6 linked regions of the Homo sapiens genome follow. The protein of the gene in region 3 purifies or fractionates together with the protein of the main gene of each other region. This does not show direct contact. Each region holds a gene or a part of one and is shown on either strand. Other genes may lie near its edges. The genes, in order: LYG2, RNF123, ZMAT4, DICER1, DSG4 and CPVL.

What was found.
Region 1: the proteins of ZMAT4 (region 3) and LYG2 purify together in Homo sapiens (affinity purification with mass spectrometry; 2 studies listed by BioGRID and IntAct, with this or other methods). This does not show direct contact.
Region 2: the proteins of ZMAT4 (region 3) and RNF123 purify together in Homo sapiens (co-immunoprecipitation; one large-scale study listed by IntAct). This does not show direct contact.
Region 4: the proteins of ZMAT4 (region 3) and DICER1 purify together in Homo sapiens (affinity purification with mass spectrometry; one large-scale study listed by BioGRID and IntAct). This does not show direct contact.
Region 5: the proteins of ZMAT4 (region 3) and DSG4 purify together in Homo sapiens (affinity purification with mass spectrometry; 2 studies listed by BioGRID and IntAct, with this or other methods). This does not show direct contact.
Region 6: the proteins of ZMAT4 (region 3) and CPVL purify together in Homo sapiens (affinity purification with mass spectrometry; one large-scale study listed by BioGRID and IntAct). This does not show direct contact.

Annotation. Positions count from the first base shown.
Region 1 is NC_000002.12:99,245,603-99,250,916, forward strand, and holds part of LYG2 (lysozyme g-like protein 2 precursor), read right to left. Parts: intron 1,219-5,314; coding exon 1,078-1,218; intron 1-1,077. UniProt on the Homo sapiens protein: May act as a potent antibacterial protein that may play a role in the innate immunity.
Region 2 is NC_000003.12:49,708,867-49,714,180, reverse strand, and holds part of RNF123 (E3 ubiquitin-protein ligase RNF123), read right to left. Parts: intron 1,703-5,314; coding exon 1,525-1,702; exon of another isoform or gene 1,289-1,524; intron 669-1,288; coding exon 594-668; intron 444-593; coding exon 356-443; intron 272-355; coding exon 184-271; intron 92-183; coding exon 7-91; intron 1-6. UniProt on the Homo sapiens protein: Catalytic subunit of the KPC complex that acts as E3 ubiquitin-protein ligase. Promotes the ubiquitination and proteasome-mediated degradation of CDKN1B which is the cyclin-dependent kinase inhibitor at the G0-G1 transition of the cell cycle.
Region 3 is NC_000008.11:40,533,643-40,538,956, forward strand, and holds part of ZMAT4 (zinc finger matrin-type protein 4), read right to left. Parts: intron 1-5,314.
Region 4 is NC_000014.9:95,084,459-95,089,173, forward strand, and holds the end of DICER1 (endoribonuclease Dicer), read right to left. Parts: 3' UTR 1,770-4,715; downstream 1-1,769. UniProt on the Homo sapiens protein: Double-stranded RNA (dsRNA) endoribonuclease playing a central role in short dsRNA-mediated post-transcriptional gene silencing.
Region 5 is NC_000018.10:31,390,277-31,395,590, forward strand, and holds part of DSG4 (desmoglein-4 isoform 2 preproprotein), read left to right. Parts: intron 1-379; coding exon 380-546; intron 547-801; coding exon 802-936; intron 937-1,878; coding exon 1,879-2,064; intron 2,065-5,314.
Region 6 is NC_000007.14:29,062,513-29,067,826, forward strand, and holds part of CPVL (probable serine carboxypeptidase CPVL isoform b precursor), read right to left. Parts: intron 3,610-5,314; coding exon 3,511-3,609; intron 1,723-3,510; coding exon 1,549-1,722; intron 1-1,548. UniProt on the Homo sapiens protein: May be involved in the digestion of phagocytosed particles in the lysosome, participation in an inflammatory protease cascade, and trimming of peptides for antigen presentation.

The sequences.
Region 1 (5,314 bases), on a different chromosome or scaffold from region 3:
ATCTCTAATTAAAAAAAAAAAAAAAAAGAATTTAAAGTTAAAAAAAGAAAAGAAACTGTTTCTTCTACTTCAGAAGAAAACCATTTTTAAAAATTTGCTAAGTTAGCCACAGCCTCTGATCACTGCTAATGACTTGGGACAACCATTCTAAGACATCCTTTTGATCTCTGACTGCAGAAACAAACAGATCCACAACCCCCAACAGGTGTCGCTTCTGCTCTGTTTCTCCTTCAAATTGCTCATGCCTGTAATCCCAGCACTTTGGGAGGCCGAGGTGGACAGATCACTTGAGGTCAGGAGCTCAAGACTAGCCTGGCCAACATGGTGAAACCCCATCTCTACTAAAAATACAAAAATTAGCTGGACTTGGTGGCAGGCACCTGTAACCCCAGCTACTCAGGAGACTGAGGCAGGAGAATCGCTTGAACCTGGGAGGTGGAGATTGTAGTGAGCCGAGATCATGCCATCGCACTCCAGCCTGGGTGACAAAGCAAGACTCTGTCATACACACAAAAAAAATTCTGCCACACTAGTGCACTGGGAAGCCTGTTGTACTAGGAGTTAGCCAATGCATGTTTTAGCCTGGCTCCGCCACTAGTTGGTTCTGTTCTATTGGGAAGTATTCCCCTCCTTGCTGAGTCTTTGGGCTCTGATTTGTAAATTTGAGGGGTTGGGGTCTGATGTGACCTTGTGGTTGCTGCCAGCTCCGACACTCTAAAACCAGGATAACGTGATGAAGACGACTTTGGAACAGTATTGCTTCAAATGGTCATGTGTAACATGAAGCAAACACAGCAGCACCACCCAAAAAACAAAGCCAGAGTCTAATATTTATTCAAGCAGTAGTTTCAATACATGGAAATAAACACAGCTGGACAAAGTTTGGAAAGAATGGGGGTGGAAAATGAAAAGAAGCTGGTTGTTAGATTGGTCAGGATTGTGGTTTTTGCTCATTTTTAATTTTGATACTATTGTCATAATGATGATTATACCTTTTCAAAATTAAGTGACTTCCTAAGAAAGAATCTGAAAACGATGAAAGGGGGAAGCCAGTCATTTGCTCTGCTTTTCACTTACCGCAGTTCATCACACTGTTTGCATCACAAGTGGCCCCAGAGGTCTTCATGGTCATGATGTCCCCATAGCAGCCGTGGTACAGGCGTGGATGTAGGTGAGGCTTCATTGAGTGACTGAAGGGGTATGAGCCCCTGGAAGTGCCTAGGAGGCAGAAGTGTAACTCACATGAATCCTCTGAGAAGATATTACTTGGGTTGCTGCAATAAACATCACTAAACCAAAGGCAGAAGGCCACAGACAGAACTCCCCAACTCTCTTGTTGCCATTATTTGTTCCTCAGACAGAAGTTCCCCATGCCCACTCTGCTCCGATCTTTTGTTTTGTTTTGTATTAACACAGGACGTAATCTGAAAACTCTATGCAAAATATTATGAAATTCATCTCTTATAGATCCTAAATACATGTGCAGTCTTTTTTTTTCCTTTTTTTAAGAGACAAGGTCTTGCTCTGTTGTCCAGGCTGGAGTGCAGTGGCATGATCATAGCTCGCTGCAGGCACCAACACCTGGGCTCAAACTATCCTCCCACCCCAGCCTCCTGAGTAGCTGGAACCACAGGTGCATATCACCAGGACTGGCTTATTTTCTCTTTTTGTAGAGATGGGGTTTTGCTATGTTGCCCAAGCTAGTCTCAAACTCCTGTGCTCAAGCGATCCTCTCTCCTTGGCCTCCCAAAGTGCTGGGATTACAGGCACTGTAGTCATACCATGCTCTATGTCAGAATTAAAACTGACAGGTTTTTAAGCAGGAAACTTGAGAGTTTTTTTTTTTTTTTTAAGATTCAGGGGGTACATGTGCAGGTTTGTTACGTGGGCATATTGTGTGATGCTGAGGATTGGCCTTCTATTGATCCTTCACCCAAATAGTGAACACAGTACCTGATGTGTAGTTTTCAACCCTTGCCTCCCTACCTTCCTCCCTCCCTCCTTCCTTTTACAGTCCCCAGTGTCTATTGTTTTGAGAGGAATTTTAAAACATTTCTGACACAAATGCCTCTGGAGATGTGAACATCTAGATTAACAATTTGCCTTTCTTAAGCCAAAATTGACAAATGGGGTCTAATTAAACTAAAGAGCTTCTGCACAGCAAAAGAAACTACCATCAGAGTGAACAGGCAACCTACAAAATGGGAGAAAATTTTCGCAACCTACTCATCTGACAAAGGGCTAATATCCAGAATCTACAATGAACTCAAACAAATTTACAAGAAAAAAACAAACAACCCCATCAAAAAGTGGGCGAAGTACATGAACAGACACTTCTCAAAAGAAGACATTTATGCAGCCAAAAAACACATGAAAAAATGCTCACCATCACTGGCTATCAGAAAAATGCAAATCAAAACCACAATGAGATACCATCTCACACCAGTTAGAATGGCAATCATTAAAAAGTCAGGCAACAACAGGTGCTGGAGAGGATGTGGAGAAATAGGAACACTTTTACACTGTTGGTGGGACTGTAAACTAGTTCAACCATTGTGGAAGTCAGTGTGGCGATTCCTCAGGGATCTAGAACTAGAAATACCATTTGACCCTGCCATCCCATTACTGGGTATATACCCAAAGGACTATAAATCATGCTGCTATAAAGACACATGCACACGTATGTTTATTGCGGCACTATTCACAATAGCAAAAACTTGGAACCAACCCAAATGTCCAACAATGATAGACTGGATTAAGAAAATGTGGCACATATACACCATGGAATACTATGCAGCCATAAAAAATGATGACTTCATGTCCTTTGTAGGGACATGGATGAAATTGGAAATCATCATTCTCAGTAAACTATCACCAAGGACAAAAAACCAAACACCACATGTTCTCACTCATAGGTGGGAATTGAACAATGAGAACACATGGACACAGGAAGGGGAACATCACACTCTGGGGACTGTTGTGGGGTGGAGGGAGGGGGGAGGGATAGCATTAGGAGATATACCTAATGCTAAATGACGAGTTAATGGGTGCAGCACACCAGCATGGCACATGTATACATATGTAACTAACCTGCACATTGTGCACATGTACCCTAAAACTTAAAGTATAATAATAATAAAATAAAATAAAATAAAATAAAAATAAATAAATAAAATTCAAAAAAAACCAATTTGCCTTTGTTTAGAAAGATAAGAAAGAAGGGCACCATAACAATTTAAATATATTCTTATTATATATCATTTACTGTGAAGTTGAGTTCCTATGTATATTTAATAAAATTAGAAGTAAAAATTGAATTTGCCAAAATAATTTAAGTCAAATCTATTCTTGTCTTTTTGTTCTGTCATTAAAAAGTGAATTTCTGTCCAAGTCTACCTGTTACAGGAGAGGCAGAGCTTTTGCTAAAGGAGATACAAAGTTATTTTCTGTAATGTTGAAAAGTTTGTTCTAACGGTTTCAAGGACTGTTAACTTGTACCTTAAGAGTCCAAATATTTGTTATAAGACAGTACTTAGGGCTGGATGTTGTGGCTTATGCCTAGAATCCCAGCACTTTGAGAGGCTGAGGCAGGACGATTGCTTGAGCGTAGGAGTTTGAGACCAGCCTATGCAACATGGCAAAACTCATTTCTACAAAAAATACAAAAATTAGCCTGGTGTAGTGGCACATGCCTGTAGTCCCAGTTGCATGGGAGACTGAGACAGGAAGATTGATTGAACCCGGGAGGTCGAGGCTGCAGTGAGCTTTGATGGTGCCACTGCACTCCAGCCTGGGCAACAGAACAAGACCCTGTCTCAAATCTCAAAAAAAAAAAAAAGGATTTTGTTAAAATGTTTGATGTAAAAAAAATAGAATCTGGTTGGGCGTGGTGGCTCACACCTGTAATCCCAGCACTTTGGGAGGCCAAGGCAGGCGGATCACCTGAGGTCGGGAGTTCAAGACCAGTCTGACCAACACGGAGAAACCCATCTCTACTAAAAATACAAAATTAGCCAGGCATGGTGGTGCATGCCTGTAATCCCAGCTACTCGGGAGGCTGAGGCAGAAGAATCGCTTGAACCCAGGAGGAGGAGGATGCAGTGAGCCGAGATCGCGCCATTGCACTCCAGCCTGGGCAAAAAGAGCGAAACTCTGTCTCAAAAAAAAAAAAAAAAAAAAAAAAGAATCTAACCACTTCTCCCACCTCTGCTTCTGCCATAGTCCCAGCCAGCATCATTGCTCATCTGGACTCTCCTAACAGCCTTCTAACTGACCTCCCTGATTCACTCTTGCAGCCCATCCTCTACTTAGTAGACGGAGTGGCCCTGTGGGAATATGCATGGGCTGCTATCAGTCTTCTCTCTTAACCTTCCAGTGGCTTTCTCCTCCTTTAGGGGAATAGCCAAGTCCATCCTGCAGCCTCCAAGACCTACTAGATGTGGCCCTCTGCTCCTGTTCCTACTTCTCTTTCCCTTTGTTCACTCTCCTCCAGCCACATTCTTCTTTGTGCTTATCCTTCAACATGCCAGGCAGGTTTCTGCCTCAAAGCCTGTATGTTTGTGGTCCCTTTTGCCTAGAATGCTATTCCTCCTGGTATCTACATGATCATGCCTTCAGGTCTCTGTCCAAATATCACCTTATCAGCAGAATATATAGCGAGTTTATAGACAAAAAAAGAAAATAGTCCTTAAACATATAAAAGACGTTAAACCACACTCAAAAGAAGAGAAAGGCCACATTAAAACATCATTATAACAGCATTTTCCAACTCTTTTTTTTTTTTTTTTTTTGAGACAGAGTCTTGCTCTGTCGCCCAGGCTGCAGTACAGTGGTGCGATCATGGCTCACTGCAAGCTCCGCCTCCTGGGTTCATGCCATTCTCCTGCCTCAGCCTCCCCAGCAGCTGGGACTACAGGCGCCTGCCATCACACCCGGCTAATTTTTTGTATTTTTAGTAGAGGCGGGGTTTCAGCATGTTAGCCAGGATGGTCTCGATCTGCTGACCTTGTGATCCGCCCACCTTGGCCTCCCAAAGTGCTGGGATTACAGGCGTGAGCCACCACGCCTGGCTGCATTTTCCAACTCTTTAGTTGGCAAGAGCCCAAAGGTTTGGCAATACCCTCTGTGGGAGAGGTTGTGAGGAAATAGGCTGTCACACACATTGCTGTGGAACACAGTTTTGTGATAGGCTGTTCATTCCAGCACTGTTGATAAGAGCAAAGGACTGCAAACAACACAAATGTCATTAATTTAGGGACTGGTTGAGTAAGTGATGCTACGTCCACAGTGGAGCACTATGCAGCTGCAAAAGGAA
Region 2 (5,314 bases), on a different chromosome or scaffold from region 3:
ACTCACTCTGGAGGCTGGGCAAATTGGCGTCCTCAAGTTTGGTTTTCAGCAGATGTGGCAGCCGTGTATAGCGGTACCCGAAGCCACAGCCCTGTGGAGGTGGGGGTCAGTGCCCAGGTCAATGGGACAGCGCACCCTCTCCCTCCAGCCAGCCTCAGCCACTTCCCCTCGAGTCAGGCTTACCCTCCAGAGCCGCACCAGGATCCAGTTGGTCTGGGCCCAGGGCCGCTGCTCATAGGGCGCCAGGAGGTTCCTCACCATGGCGATACGCCTGTGAGGGCAAGGAGGGGAGAGACGGGGTGAGGCTGGGCATGGTGCTTGTGGCCAGGGTGTGTGCCCCCCAGGCCCCACTCACTGCTCCTCGGGGATTCGCTCCACAGCCCGCAGGGAGTGTGGGTAGCACACGTAGCTGGCCAGGGCCTGCATCAGTGAGTCTCGGATGTCTGCGGGGACACACCGTGCCTCAGCAGGGGCTTGGCATGAGCCCTGGACCCATACTTCATGCCCACCTGGCCACATTTTTCATAGAAGAAAGCCGACCAGAGGTGCCATCCCATCCCCCTCCCCCTGTACCCTCTGTAGGGGCCCCTCACCAGTGCCCACAATGCGTGCGTCGGCAAAGTGTTTGGCGAGAATGGCAGCCAGGCGGGTCAGGGTCTCTTCATAGCCTGCAAGGGTGGGAAGTGAGACGTGTCGGCTGGGAGTGGGGGCTCCAGAGGCAGGCATGTCAGCAGGGTGGGTGGACTTGGGTAGCAGGCTCTAGAGCTGGCTCCCAAGGCCAGCCTGGACCCAGGGTGGCATCTGGGGACATCGGGCAAAGCATTCATTGGTGGCTGTGCAAGGGCTAAGGCACAGGCTCACTGTGAAGGGATGACAGGCCCTGGCAGGAGCCCTGACCTGGGCTCAAACCCATCTCAGCACACACACCTGATGAGCAGTCAAAGCTCCTTGGGCACTCACAGCTCTGTCTTTGAAGACAAAGCCTGCACTGAGGCCTGTGGCTGGGCAGGGGGCAGGCTAGGGGCCTGACAGCTCACTGCCTGATCCAGACATACACTGCCACGCCCAGCCTGGAATCAGCAGGCTGAGAGGCCCAGGTTCGGATGTGGACCCTAGCAGGGTCCACCCCCTGCTGTGATTTACCAAGACAAACCATTCTGCCCCTGACCAACTGCTACGCTTTGTGACCAGTGCCAGGGAGTCAAGGTGCAAGGCCAGCTGGCTCCTGGACCATGGCAGTTGCTCATAGCACTAGGAAGGAAGTGAAAGCCAAGAGGTCTACACCCACCGTGTTCCATCTTGTCTGTTTTCCTTTGCTAGGGAGCTGTTGGCTCTGTGGCTGCAGGTCCCAGGGCAGGGTGCAGACGTTTGTTTGCTGCAGGGTGAACCACAGAGGAAGCTCCTCCCCTCCCCGCCCCCCACAGAAGTGTGTTGCTGGGCCACAGAGGTCTCAGACCAGGGCTCCTAGGGCTCACACTAGAGACCCCTTTTCTGCTTCTGCCTCAGCCTGAATGGTTCCATCACCTGGGAGCTCCTCCATGCTGTGCACGGGACCAAAGTAATTCTTGAGAGCACTGTAGCTGTTGATGGCCACGCTCAGGTAGAACTCGGGCATGAAGGCAAAGAGAGACCCTGTGCGATCACCGTGCTCAATGGTCCGCAGGCAGACGCGCAGCAGCCAGTAGATGTCCAGCATCTTCTCCTGCAGGAGGCACACGGGGTGCTGCTGGGTTGCGCACCAGTGGGGTCTTGGGGGCATGTCCTGGCCTGGGGATCAGGAAAGGCCTCCCCAGGCCTACGACAGCACAACTGAGACCTGGATTTCAGGAAGCATGAGCAGTAGCTCAAGCAGGGCAATCAAGTCCTCAGCAGGCAAGAGGGACGCACTCAGCCTGGAGGGCGCATTACTGTGACCCAGGCCAGAACTCTGGTCAGCATATTTGTAAGCAAGTTTTTTTTTTTTTTGAGATGGAGTCACCCAGGCTGGAGTGCAGTGACGCCCTCTTGGCTCACTGGAAACCTCCGCCTCCCAAGTTCAAGGGATTGTCTTGCCTCAGCCTCCCGAGTAGCTGGGACTACAGGTATGTGATACCGCGCTCGGCTAATTTTTGTATTTTTAGTAGAGATGGGGTTTCGCCATGTTGGCCAGGCTGGTCTTGAACTCCTGACCTCAGGTGATCTGCCTGCCTCAGCCTGTAAGCAAGTTTTAGGCAAGAGGGTGCTGTGACTGGAAGTCTGTGTGGAAAAGTGGAGTACAAGGTGTGTGAAGGGCCCAAGAGAGCTGGCGATGGTAAGCAGACAGGCAGAAATTTGATCTGGAGTGCAAAGGAGAAGGTGGTGGGAAAGCAGGGGGCAGTGTGACTGGTGGAACAGAGGTCACAGGAAACAGACAAAACCTGCTGAGGGCCCTGCTCCCCACAATGTGGTTTCCACAAAGTCTATGTCAGGGTCTCACAAAGGAGCCCAGGCAAGAATGAGGCCTCAGGCCCCAGCCCAGACCCACAGCACCCGTGTGTCTTGGAGTGCGGTCACAGCACCTGGGCTTCACACCAGCTCTCTGATGTGCCCTAAAGCCCAAGGAACTGAGGAGAAGATGTAAGCAAGAGGTTAGGGGAGGGCCTAGGCGCAAACCTAGGCAGCGATGATCCTGCTGCTACAGAAGGCCAGCGAAGACTGTGTCTGGTGAGGGGCTGGCAATGGCCCCATCAGAGCTAAGGTATCAATGCAAAGGAGATGGAAATGTGCCGGCCGGATTGAGATGGGGGCAGACAGAGACCCTGGTGAGACTATTTCAGAGATGGGGAAGAGCCTGTGCTGGAGGGAGATGAAGGGGAAGATGTAGCAGCTAAGACAGAGAAAGAAGGAGAGAGCATAACTTTTGGGCACATATAGCGTCAAGGCTGGAATGCAGTGGCACAATCACAGCTCACTGTAACCTGGAACTCCTGGGCTCATGTGATCCTCCTACAGGTATGTGATACCACGCCCTGCTAATTTTTGTATTTTTAGGAGAGATGGGGTTTCGCCATGTTGGCCAGGCTGGTCTTGAACTCCTGACCTCAGAGTAGCTGGGACTACAGGTATGTGTCACCATGCCCCGCTAATTAAATTTTGTTTTTTTTGTAGAGATGGGTTGCCCAGGCTGGTCATGAACTCTTGGCTTCAAGTGATCCTCCCGCTTCAGCCTCCCAAAGTGCTGGTTTACAGGAGTGAATCTCTCCATTAATAATGGGATTAGAAAGACACAGGTGAGTTAGTGCTGAAGATGCAGAGAATGAAGGCAGTTCAACATAATAAAGACCATATATGAAAAGCCTCCATCTAACATCACACTCAGTGGTAACAGACTATAATCCCTCCCTCCCTCAGACCAAGAACAAGACAAGTGTGCCACTTTCTCTACTTCTGCTCAGCACAGTCCTGGAAATCCCAGCCAGAGCAACTAAGCATGAAAAAGAAAGGAAACCACACTGGAAAGGATAAAGTAAAATTATCTCTGTTCACAGACATGATTTTATAAGTAGAAAATCCTAAAGATACACACACACACACAAAACCCCAACTAGGATTAATAAATAAATTCAGCAAAATTATAGGATATGGCCAGGCGCGGTTGCTGAAGCCTGTAATCCCAGCACTTTGGGAGGCCGAGGCAGGCGGATCACCTAAGGTCAGGAGTTTGAGACCAGCCTGACCAACAAGGTGAAACCCCATCTCTACTAAAAATACAAAAATTAGCCGGGCGTGGTGGCGTATGCCTATAGTCCCAGCTACTCAGGAGGCCGAGGTGGAAGAATCGCTTGAACCTGGGAGGCAGAGGTTGCAGTGAGCCAAAATCTTGCCACTGCACTCCAGCCTGTGCCACAGAGCGAGACTCCCTCTCAAAACAAAACAAACAAACCAACAAACAAAAGATATGCAAATGGCCAATAAGTGCTTGTAAAGGTACTATTTGTCATAATGTCACTAATCATTAGCAAAATGCAGAACCACAATAAGGTACCATATCCTACCCATTAGGATTTACTATTAAAAAAGTAGAAATTGCCGGGTGTGGTGGCTCATGCCTATAATCCCCGCACTTTGGGAGGCCGAGGCAGGAGGATTCCTTGAACCCAGGAGTTTGACAACTGGGCAACATAGTGAGACCCTGCGTCTACCAAGAAAAAAAAAGGGCAGAAAATAAGAAGTGTCGGTAAGGATATGTATGGAGAAATTGGAACCCTCATGCACTACTGGTGAGAATGTAACAGGCACAGCCACTGTAGAAATGATATGGTAGTTTCCAAAAAATTAAACAACAGAATTGGCCGGGCGCGGTGGCTCATGCCTGCAATCCCAGCACTTTGGGAAGCCGAGGCAGGCGGATCACCTGAGGTCAGCAGTTCAAGACCAGCCTGACCAACACGGTGAAACCCCATCTGTACAAAAAATACAAAAATTGCAGGGCGCGATGGCTCACGCCTGTAACCCCAGCACTTTGGGAGGCCGAGGCGGGCGAATCACCTGAGGTCGGGAGTTCAAGACCAGCCTGATCAATATGAAGAAACCCCATCTCTACTAAAAAAAAATACAAAATTAGGCCAGGCGCGGTGGCTCACGCCTGTAATCCCAGCACTTTGGGAGGCCGAGGCGGGTGGATCACGAGGTCAGGAGATCGAGACCATCCTGGCTAACACGGTGAAACCCTGTCTCTACTAAAAATACAAAAAATTAGCCGGGCGTGGTGGCAGGCGCCTGTAGTCCCAGCTACTCGGGAGGCTGAGGCAGGAGAATGGTGTGAACCCGGGAGGCGGAGCTTGCAGTGAGCTGAGATAGCGCCATTGCACTCCGGCCTGGGTGAAAGAGTGAGACTCTGTCTCAAAAAAAAAAAAATACAAAATTAGCTGGGCGTGGTGGCACATGCCTGTAATCCCAGCTACTCAGGAGGCTGAGGCAGGAGAATTGCTTGAACCTGGGAGGCAGAGGCTGCCGTGAGCCGAGATCGCGCCATTGCACTCCAGCCTGGGCAAGAAGAGCAAAACTCCACCTCAAAAAAAGAAAAAAAAAATCACAAAAATTAGCCGAGCATGGTGGTGCGCACCTGTAGTCCCAGCTACTCGGGAGGCTGAGGCAGGAGAACACTTGAACCCAGGATGTGAGCCGAGATCGCACCATTGCACTCCAGCCTGGGTGACAGAGTGAGACTCCATCTCAAAAAAAATAAAAAATTAAAATTAAAAATAAAATAAAAAACAGAATTACCATATGATACAGTAATTCCACTTCTGGGTATATAACCAAAAGAATTGAAATTAGGGTCTCAAAGAGATCT
Region 3 (5,314 bases):
AGGATCTGAATAAGAATTTGAACATTGTTGGTATAATGTAGACTAAAAAAATTGAGACTATATGCATATTTTTAAAAATAGCTTTGAAATGTTTGAAATTTTGCCTTAGCATGACCCTGGTAGCTATAGCCACTTTTTAGTAGTTGTTATAAAAATTAAAATCCTGTTTTAGAATCTCATACTCTGCTACCATCCGGTCATGACCTAAAGAAATTCAACAGTCCTTGTCATCTTCAAAAATTAATGTGACATAAGGGTTGAAAGTTCTCACTGAGCAAATAAGTATAATTTCATTTTTATAAACTGCAAAGATGAACACTTTTGAGATTAAAAAGAGTTTGAAGGACAGCATCTTCACGTAACAGTAAGAAGACCAAATATTCACAGCTAAACAGTCTTTAGTCATGATTACATAGTTAGAGAAAATCAGATGAAAGGGTTTTTTTTTTAAACTTATAGTAAAAGTGGTATATTAAGAACTTAATCCCATAATGAGGAAAAATATCACATTCTTCCTTTTTATAGTCATTGTAATTATTCAGATCCTTTCTGAATACATAGAAATAATGACAAATTAAAATGTCTTTCAGTTCCCTATAGCTTTTGTAATTATTCATCCATTACTGTTATTTTTGCTGGAAAGGCTACTTCATATTTTAGTCAGCATCCCATTTGATACAAAAGAACACGGAAAATTTCACTGCTATTAATAAACACGCAGCCATCCAATCCAAGAAGAAAATTCTTTTTCATCTGAGAGATAAGCTGCATAATTCATGTATTTTCAGAAATTTCTTTAAATAGAAAATTGAAGAAAGGCATAGGGAAAAAAATTCATCACATAGCTTCCATTTGTGGCGAAGGGCAGTCTTTGTTCTCTGACAGCCTTAAATATGATTCCATCTGAAGAGAGAATTTCAATTGCGCCATATACATACCAGTCATAGTCAGATAGCTCATCTTCTTTTTGACATATATGAAACCACAAACATGATGAAAACATGGCCTCAGTTTCACATTTGCACATTTGCTACCTTTTTTTTTTTTTTTTTTTTTTTGAGACTGAGTCACGCTTTGTCGCCCAGGCTGGAGTGCAGTGGCACAATCTCAGCTCACTGCAACCTCTGCCTCCCAGGTTCAAGCAATTCTCCTGCTTCAGCCTCCCAAGTAGCTGGGATTACAGCCACGTGCTACCACACCTGGCTAATTTTTGTATTTTTAGTAGATACAGGGTTTTGCCATGTTGGCCATGCTGGTCTCAAACTCCTGACCTCAGGTGATCCACCCAACTCAGCCTCCCAAAGCGCTGGGATTACAGGTGTGAGCCACTGCGTCCGGCCCACATTTGCTACCTTTCTAAAACTAATGTAACTGAGTGTTAATAGGGACTTTTCATGGGGTCTCAGGAAGCAGTTAGAAAAATGTTGGGCAATTTGGAATGGGTACCTCTGCCTTCCCAAAAGAGAAGTGTCCCTGTCAGGGAATGTGGCGCGACATAGAACTTCTGTGATGTTCAGCCCCTATTGAAGTCTGGGCCACACGGGGCATGTGGCAGCCTTCTAGCACAAGCCAGATGAGAATCACATCTGTAGGAACAGCCATGTCCAAAAGCTTCCGCTTCTTCCACCACTAGTCTTTCCCCTTATTCTCATCCTGAAGGTCCAGGATAGGGGGATTCTCTGACCTGGTTTTGAGACAGAAATCTTAAGATAGACTAGTAACAACCATTGAAAATGGTCTCACCTTGGCCAGGTGTGGTGGCTCACGCCTGTAATCCCAGCACTTTGGGAGGCTGAGGCAGGCGGATCATGAGGTCAAGAGATCGAGACCATCCTGGCCAACATGGTGAAACCCTGTCTCTACTAAAAATACAAAAATTAGCTGGGCATGGTGGCATGCTCCTGTAGTCCTAGCTATTTGGGAGGCTGAGGCAGGAGAATTGCTTGAACCCAGGAGGCAGAAGTTGCAGTGAGCTGAGATTTTGCCACTGCACTCCAGCCTGGCGACTGAGCAAGACTCTGTCTCAAAAAAAAAAAAAAATGACCAGATATGTACACAATCTTCCTGAGATATTAACAATATGGAGGAAGAAAGAAGAAAGCACTTTGACCATGTGAGTTTGAAGGTGGTAGCTAGAGAAATATATAATGATTAATTGGTCCCACACTGAATGTAAACTGTTCAATAAGCCAGTGAAAAAACAGAGCAGAACATCCTTAGCCATGATGAAGCCTAATTTCTGATAGCCAGGTAGCAAGCTTATAGTGACAAGGAAAAGGCAGTCATGGGCCATGGTTTACATGAAATGATACGGCCAGAGTTTGTTAGGAGAGGAGGAGTCATGTCTAAGGCATTTTTCACAAAAATGTTGCTGAACAGTCATGACTTGGAACTTGTTCAGCCTATTGCCTGAGAACTGAATGACATCCAAGGACATAACACTTTGGGCCCATAAATTAAAATAGTGCATTGATAAACCAAATGAAGTTATATTTCCAAAATTGAACATTTCCTAATTTCTATTCTTGTATTTCCTAACTTGGCCAATAAATATTCAAGACAAAAGTGCAGCGTTTTCCCTGGCCAGTTCCTTTTTCTCCATCAGCCCATAATCAATCAATCCCAAATCTTATTGGTCTCCTACTTCTCTCTTAAATGTCCCATTTCCTCTGCATCCCCTGCCCCATGTCCTACTCCTGGTCTGTGGCATTGCACTAGTTTTCTATCTGGGATGTTTGCAGTCAGCTCTGCAGCCTCATCACACTGGTGTTGCAATGCCTCACTGGGTTCCCAGCACCTTCTGAGAAAATAAAAATGTCTTAATATGACACATAAAGGTCACTGTAATGTCACTGGCATCTTCTTCTCCATTCCTGTCTTTTACTCATTATTCCTTGCGATTACTCCACCTATCTGGATCACAGAAAATCAGGTGAGGCTCCTCTACGTGCTGGCTCTCACATGTTGCCATGGTTGGTGCAGGCAGTTCCTTCTGCTTGGAAACTCATCCCCCACCTCTCTGCTTGCCCAGCCTCTCCTATCCCCCTTGGTGGAAACCTGCTTCTTCCAGATCGTGTTTCCTGAATTTACCCTGACACAACAAAATGTATTTGGAATATTTTGAGCAACCACCTGGGAGTGGAGAACAAAACTTTAAGAAAATGCCCAAGCTACAGAAGGAAACTGCTGTGCTTAAGACAAGGGGCACAAGGTGTCTTGCTTCTGAAAAGGGTGAATGTCAGCGGGATGAGGGGGTTTGGAGAAAAAAAAAAAGAGAAGAGAAAGAGAATATGAGAGAAGGGGAAGAGGCCTAGAGAGAATAGAATCAGGAAGATGGCTTTGTTCTCTGCATGTTGATAGCTCTGTATGACAACCAAATCTTCAATACAGTCATCTAGACAAATAAAATACTTCCAAAGTGGTAATTTGTATTGGAAGCCTATGTAGTCTGATTGATATGGGGAGTGGGAAAAAGAAGCACTCAAATGTACAGGGGAGAAAGATGAAGAGAGATCATTAAGATGTTGGGAATCAAAAGTGGAGGCAGGACTTTGGACCCTAACAGGTTATAGACTTTTTTGGGTAGTCCTAAGCCCATTCAGGACGACTGAAAGTAGAATGGGGTTCAGTTGACACCTCTGAGATCTGATGAACATAACAATTTATCCAAAACCTTCTTGAAAAAAACAAATCACAAATGTTTTAACCCATGGAATAAAGAAATAATTTAAGAAAACTCAGGCTAATTCAGAGAAAAGTCAGGTATTGGGAACATTCAAGAAATTGGGAACATTCGAAAGTATAGCACTTTTAAAATGAATTCAACTCTTCTGCTTCCTAATACATATACACTAGCAAAATTGATAAGAACGATTTGTAATTGACTTACCAAAACACCTAAGAAAACAAGCCTCCTCTGCTTATATAGAATTTGCATTGTTTATATGCAAATGACCACTCCTGATGTGCTTCAGAACAGTTTATTCCCTTAAGAAGGCAAATATTCTCTTTATAATCTTGTTTACACTATTCATTTGCTTTGCAAAACGTTTTTCATAAAATCACAAATTAATGAAATGTTAGAGCCAGAAGGGATCCCAGAGATTATCTAGGGAGGTCGAACATCATCATTTTACAGATGAGGAAACTTGCTAGAACTCCTAATACACACACATCCTCCTCATTCCTGAGATCCACAACATCACAACCTGACCTCCATTATTTGGGTGACTCCATTCCCTTCTACTTTGGGGGTTCTGGCTACAGCTGAGGCAGAGCAAGGGGTCTGCAAAGTGCTAGGCTTTGGGCATCATCAGGACCCTGTAACCAAAAAATAAAATTCTAAGAAACCCTCCCCATAACCATTAGAATGGACTTCCTGCTCAGCCAGGGCTCTTTTAAAATTTAACCTAAGAAACTGTTTCAGGCCATGATGGGAAATAGGAGTCGGACTTGCCTCATTATACCTCTCCAGCATGAACATCAATACAGACTTTAAGTCTGATAAGAAACACTTTGCAACCTATTTTCTCGGGAGCCTACTATCTGAAGGCTTCCTCTGCAAATAAAAACTTGTGCCTCTGCAACCCTTTGTTTTAACCCAGACATTCCTTTCTGTTAATCCCAGGTCTTTAGACAAACTCAACCAATTGTCAACCAAAAAATGTTTACATTTACCTATAGCCTGGAAGCCTCCGAACCCCGCTTCTAGTTGTCCCACCTTTCTGGACTAAACCAATGTACTTTTTAAATGTATTTGATTGATGTCTCTTGCCTCCCTAAAATGTGTATAAAACCAAGCTACACCCCGACCACCTTAAGCACATGTTCTCAGGACCTCCTGAAGGCTGCATCGCGGGCCATAGTAACTCATATTTGGCTAAGAATACATCTATTTAAATATTTTACAGAGTTTAACTCTTTTTGTCGACGACAACATATTAGCCTCCTCATCTGAAGTGAGAGAGTTCAGTACCCCTCTTCTATTCACTTACAGAACTCGAAATCTGGTTAATCCTTGTTTGTTTCCAACCCCTAGCTCCTGCATTCTCTCCCCTAATCTTTCCTGACTCCCCTTTTCCTCTCGCCCCTTTCTAATTAGAACTTTCTTTTATTGTTTCCTTTATTGCATTTTTCTTTCTCTTTTTTTTTGTTTTTTGAGACAGAGTCTTCCTTTGTCATCCAGGCTGGAGTGGTGCAGTGGCACCATCTCAGCTCACTGCAACCTCTGCCTCCTGGGTTCGAGCGATTCTCCTGCCTCAGCTTCCCAAGTAGCTGGGATTACAGGCACCCGCCACCACACCTGGCTAATTTT
Region 4 (4,715 bases), on a different chromosome or scaffold from region 3:
ACAGCCAAAAGGTGGAAGCAACCCCAATGTCCATTGGCAGATGAATAAACAAAATGTGGTCTATGCATATAATGGGATATTATTCACCTTAAAAAGCAAATTCTGACATGTGCCATGGTATGGATGAACCATGAAGACGTTATGCTAAGTGAAGTCAGACACAAAAGGGCAAACATTGTCAGATTCCCCTTATATGAGGTACTTAGAAAAATTAAATTCAGAGACACAAAGTAGAATGAGGTTGCCAGGGATTTGGAGGGAAAGGAATATTAGTGTTTAATGGGTAGAGTTTTAATTTGGGATAAAGAAAATGTTCTGGAGATGGGCCAGGCGCGGTGGCTCACGCCTATAATTCCAGCACTTTGGGAGGCTGAGGCAGGCAGGAAGATCACGAGGTCAGGAGATCAAGACCATCCTGGGTAACATGGTGAAACCCCTTCTCTACTAAAAATACAAAAAATTAGCCTGGCGTGGTGGCGGGCGCCTGTAGTCCCAGCTACTCGGGAGGCTGAGGCTGGTGAATCCCTTGAACCCGGGAGGCAGAGGTTGCAGTGAGCTGAGATTGCGCCACTACATTCCAGCCTGGGTGACAGAGCGAAACTCTGTCTCAAAAAAAGAAAAAGAAAAACTTCTGGAGATGAAGGGTGGTGAGAATTGCAAAACACTGTGAAGGTACTTTATGCCATTAAACTGTACACTTAAAAATGGTTAAGATGGTAAACTTTATGTGTATTTTACCACATACACACCAAAAAACCTTCTAAGGGTTGTTCATAAACTGCCTTGCAGACCAGTTATAAAGCACTTCTCCTGGCCTGCACATCTCTCTGCTCCTTGCATCTTTCCAAGGGGCACAGACCTGAGCTGGCTGGGACCCAGCATTTACCATTCCATCTAAAACATACATTGTGCTCACGGATCTGCACACACACAAAAATTCAATCCCATCTGGATTCTTTTCACGCACATCGCAATCTGCAAAATGATACATTCAGCCTGGCTGTGTTCTTTCTTGCTAGCCGTGACAGCTGCAGACGTGAGCAGTTGCTTGTCTTGGAGGGTAGGGTCAATGGTGGCAGGAAGGACCTGTGGCCCTGAGGCTTGGCCTGAACTATCTAGAGAATTCAGGGCAGTAACATCAACACACACAAGCATGCAGCACTTACCCAAATTCCTTAGGATTAAAATATACTTTTTTCTCATCTAGTTTAGGGCAGTCAGAGAGAGAGGAAAGGAAGGGACTAATTTAAACCTACAAAGGAAAACTAAACTTTTTTCTCATTCTAAAAAACTTCTTACCATCTTGTTTCTACAACCAAATGATTCATATTAGTGCTTGGTTTACTGAGTTACAAAAAAAGTTGGGTCAAAAGGCTAAAATGATAGAATTATTTCTTAATCAACAATATTGGAAATGTGTCCTAAAAACCTGGAAGCTGAACATTCTGTCCACCTGCTTTTAGAAAAGCCAAGTTCACCTCAAGAATGTGTCAAACACATCATCTAAATAATCCAAGACCTAGAATGCATCAATCAATGTGACAGAATTTCCAAAAAGCAGATTGGAATTAAGTCTTCAAAAAAGACAGTTGTTACTATATAATTCTACAGGTGGACATGAAGCAGAACTTGGTAAACAAAATTTTATATTAAAATATGCATTTTCATATGATTCACCATGGAATTGAAACATTATAAAGATCATTTCTGCTACCACTATTTAAACGTTATTACCCACTTGAATTGAAAAAAGATGAAAGGACACAAAGTGAACAGACGATAACTTTATTGGAGATTTACTTGGCTACAATTATTACAAAAAAAACAACTAAAGGTAATTGTGATCCATAAGGTGCAGACTGCAAATTTCTGCAGCATGATTACTGTATGAATGAATGACATCATGTTCCTTAAAAAACAGCTGCAGCATGTGATGGTAAATATTTTATTGTCAATCAAATAATATGCATTAGTTTTACTTGATTTTAGTAATTTTCCTTCACTATTTACAGCAGAAAAGCCAGAAATTTACTTCCTGTTCACCTTTGCATTTTTGCTATGTAACCTGCTGCTGCAGTGAATTCTTAGTGCATCTATAAAATTTAAATTGTCTGTGGTTGATGTCCAAATAAAAATGGACTAGAAAAAAAGAAGTAATGATTAAAATATATTTACAAGTTAGTTGTGAAAAATCATTTTCACTGCTAGTGGAAAATACAATGGTCTCAATGCAAATTTCCTAGATATTGCTATTGGCGTCTCCAACAACTTTAAAAATCATTTTAATAGTCTTGGTCTTAAACATATCTTTAAAACTTTTCATGTACAATATAAAATAAAGAAATTTATCTGGAAATAATTAAATTCCTGAAAAGTAATCAGTGGTTGGAAAAATATAATTATTCAAATGTAATTAAAACAACCATATAGGTAATAAACATGACATGAGTTTCTCTTCTGCAGATAATGCAAATGGGTTAAAGACTCTTAACATAATTTCAGATGCAGTTAAAAAAAGGTATCAAGGTCTCAGTTTGGTGGCTTCAATCTTGTGTAAAGGGATTAGACACCCTAACAGAGCAAGATCCAATATTTTAAATCAACGGGGCCTTGTGCATGAACTGCGCTCGATCTGGATTCCAGTGATCCTCTGCAGTGCCCACCTGCCTCCAGGGAGCGACTGAAGAAGCCGACTGCCGGGGGAACACCTGGATTCATGAACCAAAGCAGCCTCAAGTTTCATGTTGTCAAGGCAGGGTATCAGAATCTTTCTGAGGGCAAAGTATTATTAACAAATAAAAATATCAGTATTTTAAAAGACAATTACAGGAGTGTTAGAGGTCATTCTAAATTTCATCACTTCACGTAATATAAAAGAAAAAAGAAAAGAAATATAACAAACATTTTAAAAACATAATTAAGAGTTCAGTTAACAAATCTGTTTCATACTTTCACAAACAGTAAAAATGCCACAGACAAAAATGACCTATTTAAGTTGTGCGAGTATATGACACATTGCAGGCATTATAATTATCTTTTTCAAATTCCATAAATCAAAACAGCAGCAAGGCCAAACCACATTTTTTTCCTCTCTGTTAAGCATATTTTCTTGAAATGAGGTAAAGCATGGTACCAAGTGCAATGCTTATCTGTGCTACATGAACAGAACAGAAGGGAAAAAGCTATTATAAAACGCAGCATAGTTAGGACTGCGGAAAGCATATTATAAAAGAAATTTTAAAAAATTTACAAATGAAGGTTCATGTTAACTAACTTGCACACAATCATCATAAGGAATTTCTGCAGTTGCTTTTTCAAGACACGCCTCCCCAGTCCTTTACACACGTGCTCAGGGCACAACCACACCCCACTGGTAGGTTTTCCATATTACATTCGGTCTCACATTGCAATCACAGGAACACAGGGTGGCACACAGGGCTCTAAAGTGGGGCAACATAGAGTGATTTTTTTTTTCCTTAATTGACAGATGCAAAACATTTCAACAAGCTAAACACAGGAAAACTTTACAGCATTAAAAATCAGCAGCACAAAAGCGTTCATAACCATTTCATATGTCTAACTCGTACTTTTTTATTTTTTAACTCAGTAACCAGGGGATCACAGAATGCTTCAAACTGTGAGTCAAATTAAAATCTACTATTTTTCTCCAACAAAAAGTGAAACGGCTGAAGTTTGCTGTTGATAAAACATTTGAATGGTAGAAGGAAATTTGAACCCCTGAGAATGTATGACCTAATCATGTCTAAGTTTGAACATCTTAGTATTAACAAAAAAATACTCTTCTTAAGGTTACAAATATATTGAGGCATTTTTCTCCCACTGGGAATCATAACTGTGAAAACAATCTGATTTTGGTGCCAGGAATCAAGAGAATCCCGTAACACTGGGATCAATGTATTAGACACAATGCAAAGCCCTAAGCTCCTGGCATCAGGTAGTTTATAAATATTAAGAGATTTGTGATTAAACTTGATCACAAATCACCCTCAGAATAAAATTCACATCCAGCCTTGTTAACTGCACACTTTTACAGTTATATAATTCAAGAATTGCTTTGTTTTAACTGGTCATATCTTACATTAAGGTTTTTTAAAAAATCAAATAGACATCTAAGGTTCCAAATCGGAATTAAATATTTTTAAAACAAGTCACCTAATTTGCTCAAAAACTCGTTTAATAATTTAGATCTCAATTTAAGTTTAAGATTGGAGACAACAAAAAACACTGGAGAAGCTTAATACCCCCCTCACTCAGGGTTCCTTAGAAAGCAGAGCTGACAGTTTTCTGTCGGTGCACTCGCACAGAGGCATTTCTCTGTGGGTGGATGATGCAGATAAAGCAGGAAGGACAGTATTCAAATGTCACTTACATATAAATGCAGCATTCCACGAAGCATCAAGTTCAGAATCATGTGCTGGGAAATATGAGACACCTCTGCTCAGCTTTCTTAAACTTCAAGCATAATTAACGGGGCAAATTGCAGCAAACCTCTACTGGTATGTTGATGGGAGTGCAAGACTGACCCACAGCTTTTAAAAAGGTAAATTAAGAGGTATTATAGTTACAGTGCAAAAAAAAAAAAATTAAAATTTCAAGCATAATACATAAACATAGCACCAAACAGGGGAAAAATGCATGCAAAAGAAAAGAAGAACTGAGGTATTTAAGTGAAGAGTGCCTACAAGTCTAATTAA
Region 5 (5,314 bases), on a different chromosome or scaffold from region 3:
CTTAATTAAGCATTTTTAAATGATTTCACAAGACCATGGCAAAAAATAAAACAGATAAAAATCTGTTTATTCAGCTATATGATAAAGAATCTATTGAACTTCTTTTTCGTACTTTAAAGAGAACTATGTTTAGCCACTAATTTAGTATTTAATCATTTAAGGAGTGCAAGTACTTTTAAAACAGTAAAGGGTTTTATAAAGCAAACCACATTTTTTTTAATCACTGGTAGAGCTGAAAGTTATGGTACTATATTCCCATGGAAAACTCAAACAGAGAGAATTCAGGAGAAGGCCAACCACTCTGTCTTCTTATGCCTAATGATTTGCTGAATTTATTCTAAGAGTCCCAACCATTCTCCACCTCCATTTCTATTTCTAGATACATTGGTAGTAAAGTTATGTGCCACAGATGCAGATGAAGAAAATCATCTGAATTCTAAAATTGCCTACAAGATCGTCTCTCAGGAGCCATCAGGTGCACCCATGTTCATTCTGAATAGGTACACTGGAGAAGTCTGCACCATGTCCAGTTTCTTGGACAGAGAGGTAAAGCCTTCTGTGAATGAACAAGAACTAAAAAATTCAATTTTGAAAAGACAAAGATAAAATGATCCATGTGTACCCTTACTCCAATATAAAGGAGGGAAGAAAAATAATCCATTTTTAATAAAAATTAAAAGCTCAATTATATAAATTTCATTGGATATGTAAATAAAAGAGTAGAGAAATAATGGCATTGAATGCATTGGATTCTATTCAAGACAAAACCTAAGTCTTACGTTCTTTTTCATCTTGATTAAGCAACACAGTATGTACAACCTGGTTGTGAGAGGCTCAGATCGGGATGGAGCTGCAGATGGACTGTCTTCTGAGTGTGACTGTAGAATCAAGGTTTTAGACGTCAACGATAATTTCCCCACCTTAGAGAAAACTTCAGTAAGTTTGTATTCTTATCTTCCTTTTTCCATAAGTGTCAATAATCAATTTGCATAAGTGTCAATAATCAATCATGCTGGCTCATGAGCCTGGTTCTGTCCTATGTGTGGACATACTCAACTTTGTTATAGAAACTTTGGAATTTCTTATGTATACTAATATACCTTCAAATTGTATGTTTGTCTTTGACTCACTACTCCAAACAAGCCTTCTCTGTGAAAGCAACGAACTATCTATTCTGTATACTCTATTCACAGAAACACAGAAATCTGTTGATCTAACTCTGGGAATAACATAGCAACATTAATGTTTTTGTATATGCCTCATGATTTGCTGAATGAATTCTACTAGAGTCCCAGACAGTCTCAACTTCCATTTTCATCTCTAAGCATAAAGAAGCATAAAATCCACACTAGCAGGGCCAAATCTGGCTTGCTGTCTGTTTCGGTTTAAAAAAAAAAACAAAAAAACAAAACAAAAAACGTGTTATTGGAGAGCATAGCTGTCCTCATGCCTTTACATATTGTCTATGGGGGCTTTGTGCTGCAACAGCAGACGTGAGGGGTTGCAACACCAATTCTCTGGCCCACAATATCTAATATATTTACTATTCAGCCCTTTACAGAAAAAAATCTGGTCCTCTATCTAAAAGAAAAGAATAAATAAAGAAAATTAACAATAAGCAAAAATAAATAAATAAATAAAAGAGAAAGGAACAAAGTGCTAATTTGACCTTGATTTTACATACAGCACATGAATGTCAGTTTTATTATCTTATAATCATTTTATTCTTATTCTCCTGATTGGACTATGGGCATTTAATAATGGTGCAAAAATCATCGACATAGTTTGTTGTTAGTATTTTAAATAATAATAATGTGTTTTAAGTACGTTTCTTCTTTTGAAAATTCATTGACTACAAAATTGATCCTTGCATTTTAGTACTCAGCCAGTATTGAAGAGAATTGTTTAAGTTCGGAACTGATACGATTACAAGCAATTGATCTTGATGAAGAAGGCACTGATAACTGGTTGGCTCAATATTTAATTCTCTCTGGAAATGATGGGAATTGGTTCGATATTCAAACAGATCCACAAACCAATGAAGGCATTTTGAAAGTTGTCAAGGTACAGTATAAGGATCTGCAATATTTTCTTCCAAAATATTTTATTCCAAAGAAGTTTTAAATGACCTTAGAGACAGAATCTGCCTTTAAAAAAAAGTACTTCATAACTTTGAATATTGTTTATATCAAGGGTCCTAAGTAACTGCTATGTCAGTCTGAGTCTCCTAGCTAGCAACACAAAACTTATTACCAAGAAAAATATGAAGACTGTTTTGTTCTGACAGTGTCCAATATCTAGTTGTGAAGATAAGGTAAGCAACCCCAAATTAGAAGATATATGGGAGTTCACAGTGCAATAAATAATACAGATGTCATGATATAAAACATAATTAATTGCCAAGGGAGTGGAATATGAAATAATGAAAGAGATAAGAAATGGTGAGATCCTTCTGAGCTAGATTTGTCTGAAAAGATTTCATGCAGGAAATAAGGCTTAAGCAAGATGTTATAGCTAAGATTGCTAATGTGGGTAATAAAATAAACAAACACAGAGTGAGAAAACATGAAGCAAGTTCAGGGCATGGTGAGCAACCCCGTGGGGCTGTAGTGGGGCATCAAGTAGGGAAGTAATCAGAAGTCAGATCAGAGAAGTGAAGCTGAAATCGATCTGCTGAGAACCTTGCATACTGAAATACCGGCTTTGATTTTTTTCTATAGATTAATTTTTCTTTAATTACTTGCTTTTAATTCACAGACAATGATAAAACTGAAAAATTTATAATTAGAAACGAATAAAACCACAAACCAATAAGATTCAGATTAACATTACTGTAATGAGGGAAATTGTTATTTTTTAACAAAGGAAATTGCTGCTAACAACATAAACAACACTTATAGCCAGGAAAATATATATTAAGACATATATGTACACACATATTTTTAGCTTACTACACAGTGTGATTGTGGAATTTACAGTGTGATTATTCAGTTCTGTTACTATTTTTCTCTATTCAAGCACATAAGGCTCTTTTTGTGTTACCATAAAGTAATAGCTGAGACTGGGTAATTTATAAAGAAAAGAGGTTCAGTTGAATCACCATTTTGCAGGCCATACAGGAAGCAAAGTGCCAACATGTCCTTCCAGTGAGGGCCTCAGGAATCTTACAATCATTGTGGAAGGCAAAGGGGGAGCCAGTGCATCACATGACAAGGGCAGTAGCAGAAGAGAGAAGGGGGAGGTCCTAGACTCCTGTAAACAACCAGATCTCGCAAAAACTCATTTATCACCAAGGCTATGGTGGTAAACCATTCGTGAGGGATCTGCCCGATCACCCCTCACCAGGCCCCACCTCCAACTTTGGGAATCACATTTAAAGATGAGATTTGTGGGTGACAGACATCCAAACCATATCATCAAGTTACTGTGAAGTTTTTTCAGATAGCATATTAGGAAGCCATTTAGCCTTCTGGAAGCAAACATATCGTTTATTCATTGGGTCTTTCGCTTTTCTTTCTCAAGTATCTGAGCAATTTTAGTATTACTACTTTACCACCAAAGCACAACCATACACACTGAAATCATATGGTATATTAACTTAAGAGCTGGCCACCAAAATTATGAAAAATATTTATATATAAGATTGTCATCCAAATGAATACACACAATTTTATAATTTCTTAAGTGAACACAAGGACTCAAAGAGTATATCATGGACTTTCTGTTTGGAAAACATTGCTTTGGGCCAGAGGTCAGCAAACTATGATCCAGAGGTCCTCACCTGTCCCCTGTTTCATAAATAGTTTTATTGGAATACAACCACATACATTCATTTACGTATTTTCTGTGGCTGTTTCCACACTCAAGTTGCTGATATGAATACTTGAGATAGAAACTCTGTATGATATGACCCCTAAAACCTAGAACATTTACTATCTGGCCCTTAACCAAAAGTTTTTCAATTCCTACTTATAGACCAAGGAAAGCTTTGGGATATTTTCTAAAATAACAATAACACCGGCCTGGCAAAGTGGCTCACGTCTGTAATCCCAGCACTTTGGGAGGCCAAGGCGGGCAGATCACCTGAAGTCGGGAGTTTGAGACCAGCCTGACCAACATGGAGAAACCCCATCTCTACTAAAAATACAAAATTAGCCAGGTGTGGTGACACATGTCTGTAATCCCAACTACTCGGGAGGCTGAGGCAGGAGAATCGCTTGAACCCGGGAGGCGGAGGTTGCAGTGAGCTGAGATTGTGCCATTGCACTCCAGCCTCGGCAACAAAAGTGAAACTTAACAACATGAGTTCAACTCTGAAAAGACCACAGTTATAAAAATTATTATGATATTAATTAAGTTCTGAGGTACTAAGCATCTGATCTAAGGCAATGGCAGTAAAAATGGAAAAAAAAAAAAAAAGGAATGGGTATAGGAGACATTGCCAAATACAATACAAAGAGGAATAGAGGAACAAGAGGTCACCTCCCACCATATCAAATTCTGAATATTTAGTCAAGTTTTTCTTCCAGGGATCAGAATTTGTTAAACCTTGCATCCTGGTTAAAAATCAAGAGCTAGACATAACATGCAATTCTTACCTATGTTCTTATCATCTTAGTGACTAACTTTGTATATTATCTCATAATATGTAACTGCTCTTTGCTTTTGTTCTGTCTCCCAACCTACTAAAATAATAGAAGAATTTTGTGCATAAAGAACCTGATCTAAATATCTTTCTACCCCCAGCACCTGGTCCAGTGTCCAAAAGATAGTAGAGACTCACAAAATTTGAGAATAGTATTGATGATACTATTTACCTGAAACTAATGGCATAGATATCATCCAAACAGAAGTCACTGGACTTGATTGCATCATTCGTAACTTCTGCATACAATTATAAATATGAAAAAAATTAACAATGCAGGCAATGTACTATCTGACTTATGTAATGTGCCTTCTGTGATAACAACTTTTTTAAAGATATACTTAATTGCTAAAAAAAAAAAAAAGCTATTGAAATATCAATTTCATGAAAAATTTGTCAAGGTAATTTGGATGCTGTATATACAAAGCCCTATCTATTTTTTTCTGAATGATAACTTTCCAAATCTCTTAAAAAGAGTAAGAAAAAATGTGCTTAAAAATACCAAAGTAATGGAGAAAGGCTAATTAAAATGAAATTTTAAACCTTGATGTTTGTATTACTACCTAGCCAAAAGAACTATTTTAGAGAACATAAGCGTAATTTTCCCATGTTTGACATTTTCAACAGCTGGTGGTCAGCCTCTCATTCCAGATACATCTGGAATGAGGT
Region 6 (5,314 bases), on a different chromosome or scaffold from region 3:
GCATATAATTGGTCTTAAACTATTTTCAACAATGGTTACGTGTCCAACACTGTACTAGAAGCAGGACCCAGAAATGGGCCTCCTAGGTCTGGCATATTCTAAACCACAGTCTAGTTAGGGTGCATTGGCCAGGGACTGCCTGGATAGTATTGCAGATTGTGCACTGAACAATCCTAAGACACACCATTCCTAATATACACATTGTAGAAATGAATATTCAGCATGCCAGCAAATGGCAGTAAAGAGTCTGGTTTTAACTAAGGCAGTATATCAGGACAATTTCTGAAAGATCGAAATAAAGTATCTTGAGGAGAGGATGCCTTTATTCTAATTCATACAAAAATCCTATGGGCTGCCGACTGCCCTGTTTTTTGTTCATTCAAAACAGGATATAGGGAGGAAGTGGATCACTCAGTGGTGGTCTCCCCAGTCATCAGTACAGGCATCCTTCGGAGTTGCCCTAGAGACGATCCCTTGGGCAAAGGCTAACAGCACTGGAGGACCAGAGGAGGAGCTGAGAGCGTAGTACCAGGAAAGAAATAATACACAGGCTGACTTTCCCCATGTCATTTGCTCTTGGTGTCCTCCTTCCCAGTGGGAGTTCCAGGGCCCATGTCTTCTTTGCCTGAACCTCCAGGGCTCCTTTTCTGTGACCTCACTCTCCACTGGCACCTCCACTGGCAGCAAAGGCAGAGCATTTCAACCAGACAGCACAATGGCTTGACTTGACCTACTTCCAAACAGGGACCCTTTCTCATTCATCATTTCAACCTCACACCCTAAGGAGAGACTCAAAACACTGTGATTGGGTAAAGTGAATGAATACAACCATTAGGCAAAATGCATTTTCAGAATAACCAGTTGATTTCATTTATCCCTGACGTCATTGGGATTCATGTAACAAAGCAACACATAAGAGAAATCTGGCTCTTACACACGGCCAGTCATCTTTTTGGCTCTGCAACTCTTCCTTTCTCAAGAAAGGATGAGAAGTGGTGTGTGCCAAAGGGAATTTCATTTTAAGGAATAATCAGGGGAAAGTGGTTAAATTATTTTATTTTATTTTTATTTTTTTGAGACAGAGTTTTTGCTCTGTTGCCCAGGCTGGAGTGCAATGTTGCGATCTTGGCTCACTGCAACCTCTGCCTCCCGGGTTCAAGTGATTCTCACGCCTCAACCTCCCAAGTAGCTGGGATTACAGGCACCCGCCACCATGTCCAGCTAGTTTTTGTATTTTTTAGTAGAGAGAAGGTTTCACCATGTTGGCCAGGCTGGTCTCAAAATCTTGACCTCAGGTGATCCACCCGCCTCAGGCTCCCAAAGCACTGGGATTACAGGTATAAGTCACCACAACGGCAAAAGTGGTTAAATTAAAAGGAACAATATAAAACTTTGAATTGGAATCAAACAAAGAAAGGGGCTGTTATTTATGCTAATGACACATCATAAAAGTTAAAAAAAAAAAAAAGGCAGGACTCAAATTACAAATCACTTCTGCTCTGGGTAATCTGAAAGTTCCTAAAATAGTAACTGAAGTAGCTCTCTTACCTTATAATTATTCATGATTTCAGTTAACCATGGCTTAACTGACTGTACTGTATCTTCTCGCAAGTACTTTTCAACTATAGTTCCATCATTAAAAGTCTGATTCCCCACGTGGATGGCTTGTCTCACCTCTGGGAGTGACAAAAATTTCACATAGTAAAGCTGATCCTCAGGTTCCTGGCAGAAGGGGCATTGGAAAGACATAGGGAACATGATTGGTGGCAGGAACAGTATGTTGGGAAAAGCTGTGAATTTCTCATAACATACAACATGGAGAAACGTGACGGGACTATTAACTTGTCGCCATTCTTGAAATTTTAACTCGGAGGTTTTGAGATAATTTAGGTGGAATCTTTTTACTAATTAGAAATCTGAAATACCCTTAAAATACTCTTAAAATACCCAATTTGCAAATACAGGATTTTCCTTTGCAGAAACTAATCTTTTGCAATCTGTGACTCCCATTAGCAACCCCACTAGAGGCAAAGAGAGAGAAAACAAAAGAGATGAGATTATCAAAATCAATTCACTCCTTGTTGGTGGCTCTTTGGAAAGAAGGTCAAATGGATCACAAGGGCCAGGTTGGTGGTGTGCTGGATTTAAAGCTAAGAATTTCTTTTCTGTGTTCTGCTGTTTATTAAAACCACACACATGTATACATGTGCCATGTTGGTGTGCTGCACTTATTAACTCGTCATTTAGCATCAGGTATATCTCCTAATGCTATCCCTCCCCCCTACCCCCACCCCACAACAGTCCCCGGTGTGTGATGTTCCCCATCCTGTGTCCATGTGTATACATATGTAACAAACCTGCACGTTGTGCACATGTACCCTAAAACTTAAAGTATAATAATAATAAAATTAAAAAATAAAAAAAACCGCACACACACACAAAATTGGATTGACTATAATAAAGGGGAAAATATGTCAAATGTGAAAAGAGATGATACTTTATGAAGGACACAAGACAGAAGAAAAGTTGTCCATGAAGCTTATTAAAAAAAAAACTGCAATAAAGTCTCTGTAATAATCATTATACTGAAAGAAAGGAGTAAATGCTTTAAAAAAAAAACAGTTACACAAGGATTAAAAAAACTGTTAAAGTTTGAGTTTGACAACTTTGTGCTTCATCAACAATTTTTACTAACTGTGAATATATTGTTGTAAAGAAAAAAAGGTATCATCACAAATTTTGTTTCTGTCTTGTCTACCACATGTTTTTCTCTTAGTAGAATCTAAATCCAAAACTGCAGCATTGGCGAATTCCACTGAAACTAACGTTATACTTTATTTACAAACTAGTTCATAAATCAGGCAATTTTAAAAACAGAATGCATTGTCATAAGCATTAGACAAAGATTATACAAATTCAAACACCTACTTTGGCTCCTTCTGTTTGACTAATTCTACACAAAAGATATCAACTTTGGCCTACTTTTATGAAACAAACTACTTGAATACTTTGAGAAATATTCCAGAAGGCTTGAAGTGAGGGCCATACTAAATGCATTAAACATCTTAAAAGTAAGACAAAGCAAATATTTTCATTAAGGCTTTGGCAGTTTTGATTATCCAAGCGTCTTAAGTACAGAACAAAGAATGTGGGCATTTTCAAGAGACTCGTAAACAGACTTGAAGCTCTGGGACCTGAGACCCAGAACTCCAATCCCAGCCTGTGTCCTTCACAAAAGTGCCTCTATAACAAGCTCTACTTGGGGGAAATCATGTTCATCAGAAGTTGTTTTGAGTTATCTGAAATATCACACATTCTCAGTGGTCAGATTATAACGTATACAACACTGATGAGGAAAAGATTCTATGGGTTAGTAGACCACATCACGCGGTACAGTTTGGACATGTTGGTCTAGTATAAAGTCATCTATAATATTTCCCAAATCAAAGGAAGTTCGGTTTTGCCAAAAGTTTTAAGCAAACATTATTATGGTTTTTAAAATGTCATTACCGTGCACCGCAAAAAGTTATAGTAATTACTACATCCTGTAACATTCTGGAAGTAAGAAGGATCACTTGTTAAGTCGCCATCTAGTAGTTTATCCAGTATCTAGGTTGGGAGAGAGGGAGAAAGAAAGAAAGAAAGAAAACATCAGTGTGGATAAAAATGTACAGACATTTGTCATTTCATTTATTCAACAACTTTTTCATTCCTTTATTGTTTCATCCAGCGCCCACTTATTGTGCATATTCTCTGTGCTAGACACTGTCATGGCACTGGAGAAATGGCCATCAACAAAACAGACCAATGGTCCTCCCCCATGGAGCTTTTATTCTGGTGGGGGACAACAAGCATTTCTAAGTAAATTATATCATATGGTAGACAGTGATAAACTCTTGAGTATGTTAGGGAATGACAAGGAGAAAACTAAAGAGGAGTAGGAAGTGTCATGTGTGTGCATGTGTGTATGGGACAATGTAGAGAGGAGGTCACAGAGGACCTCACTTAGAAGGTGGCATTTGAGTAAAGACATATTGGATGAGAGGAATAGAGCCATGCAGACATCTAGGGGAAGGAAGGTTCCAGGCAGAGGACACAGTAAGCTCAAAGGCCTTGCCTATGGGAGTAAGCCTTGTGGGAAGGGTGCCTTAACATGGATCATGAACTGCTCACCAGATGACATGGAGAGAAGACGCAGGATATGGTGCAGATGCAGGTTCCTGGAGCTGGTGGAAGTTATCTTTGGGCTGACATTAAAAAACCCAGTCACCAGCTGAGCGGGAGAGCAGTCAGCATGGTTGCATGCTTTCCTCCAGCCATTGTCAGCTGTGTGGAGACAAGCACAGCCTGACAGAGAGGCAGATTGAGCCAGGGCTGTGGTTCAGCCAAAGGAGTTGGAAGAAATGCAAAAGAGCTTTGGGCTTGGAAATGTATGGAATGACTGACCCTGGGTTGAAGACAGGTAATTAGAGAAATGGAGACTTGAGGGGGTTAGAGATAGTGGAGAGGCAGGAGGATCAATGGATTGAAAGGTAGTGAGGTTGCAGGGCTGTAAGATCAGTACATTAGCAGAAGAGATTCGGACAGGAGGTGGTAGTTGGAGAAAGATGTTTGAATGTGTGATTGTGGATCAGCTGCCAGCATTTTAGGGTATGAGAATCAGCAGCTAAGATGAGGAGGAGAACAAGATCATTGAAAAAGAGGAGGCTGAGGCACCAAGGACCAGGTCCCAAAAGGATCGTCAATGTGGATCCTGCAGTTACCAGGAATTATGACAAGAATAATGCTGCAGAGAGTGACAGGGAGGAAGGAGCTCAGCTATTCAAATGAGAGGGAGTAACCAGGGGTTGGTAGGCAGACACAGTTGGAAGTGGTCAGAGGCCCTGTCTGAGGACAGGAGAGTCAAAGCTCAATGCTTTAGGAGGAGGCAGGGAACATGATCTGAAAGTCACATGATGAGCAAGGAAGACACCTACTCCACCTATGAACCAAGTGATACAGACAAGCTAAGAGAGAGAACAGCCCCCACTCAAGAGGACCACAGGGACTGCAGCATCAGGGGAGAGCCAGGTTTCTGGCAAAGCAAGAAGATGAAGAGAAGAAAATAGTCACAGAAGAGGTTGAAGACATGGAGGGGGGTTGTTGATGATGATATTAAGTTGTAAGGAGTTCTTACAAAAGAATTCAAAGAAATGAAGTCAGCACATGTTAAAAACAATCTATCAAGTACAAATTTAGGTCTCTTATCAGATAAGGTATTATTATTCTAATTTTATGGGTGAGAAAACTGAGACACATGAGTTTAAGCAACTTG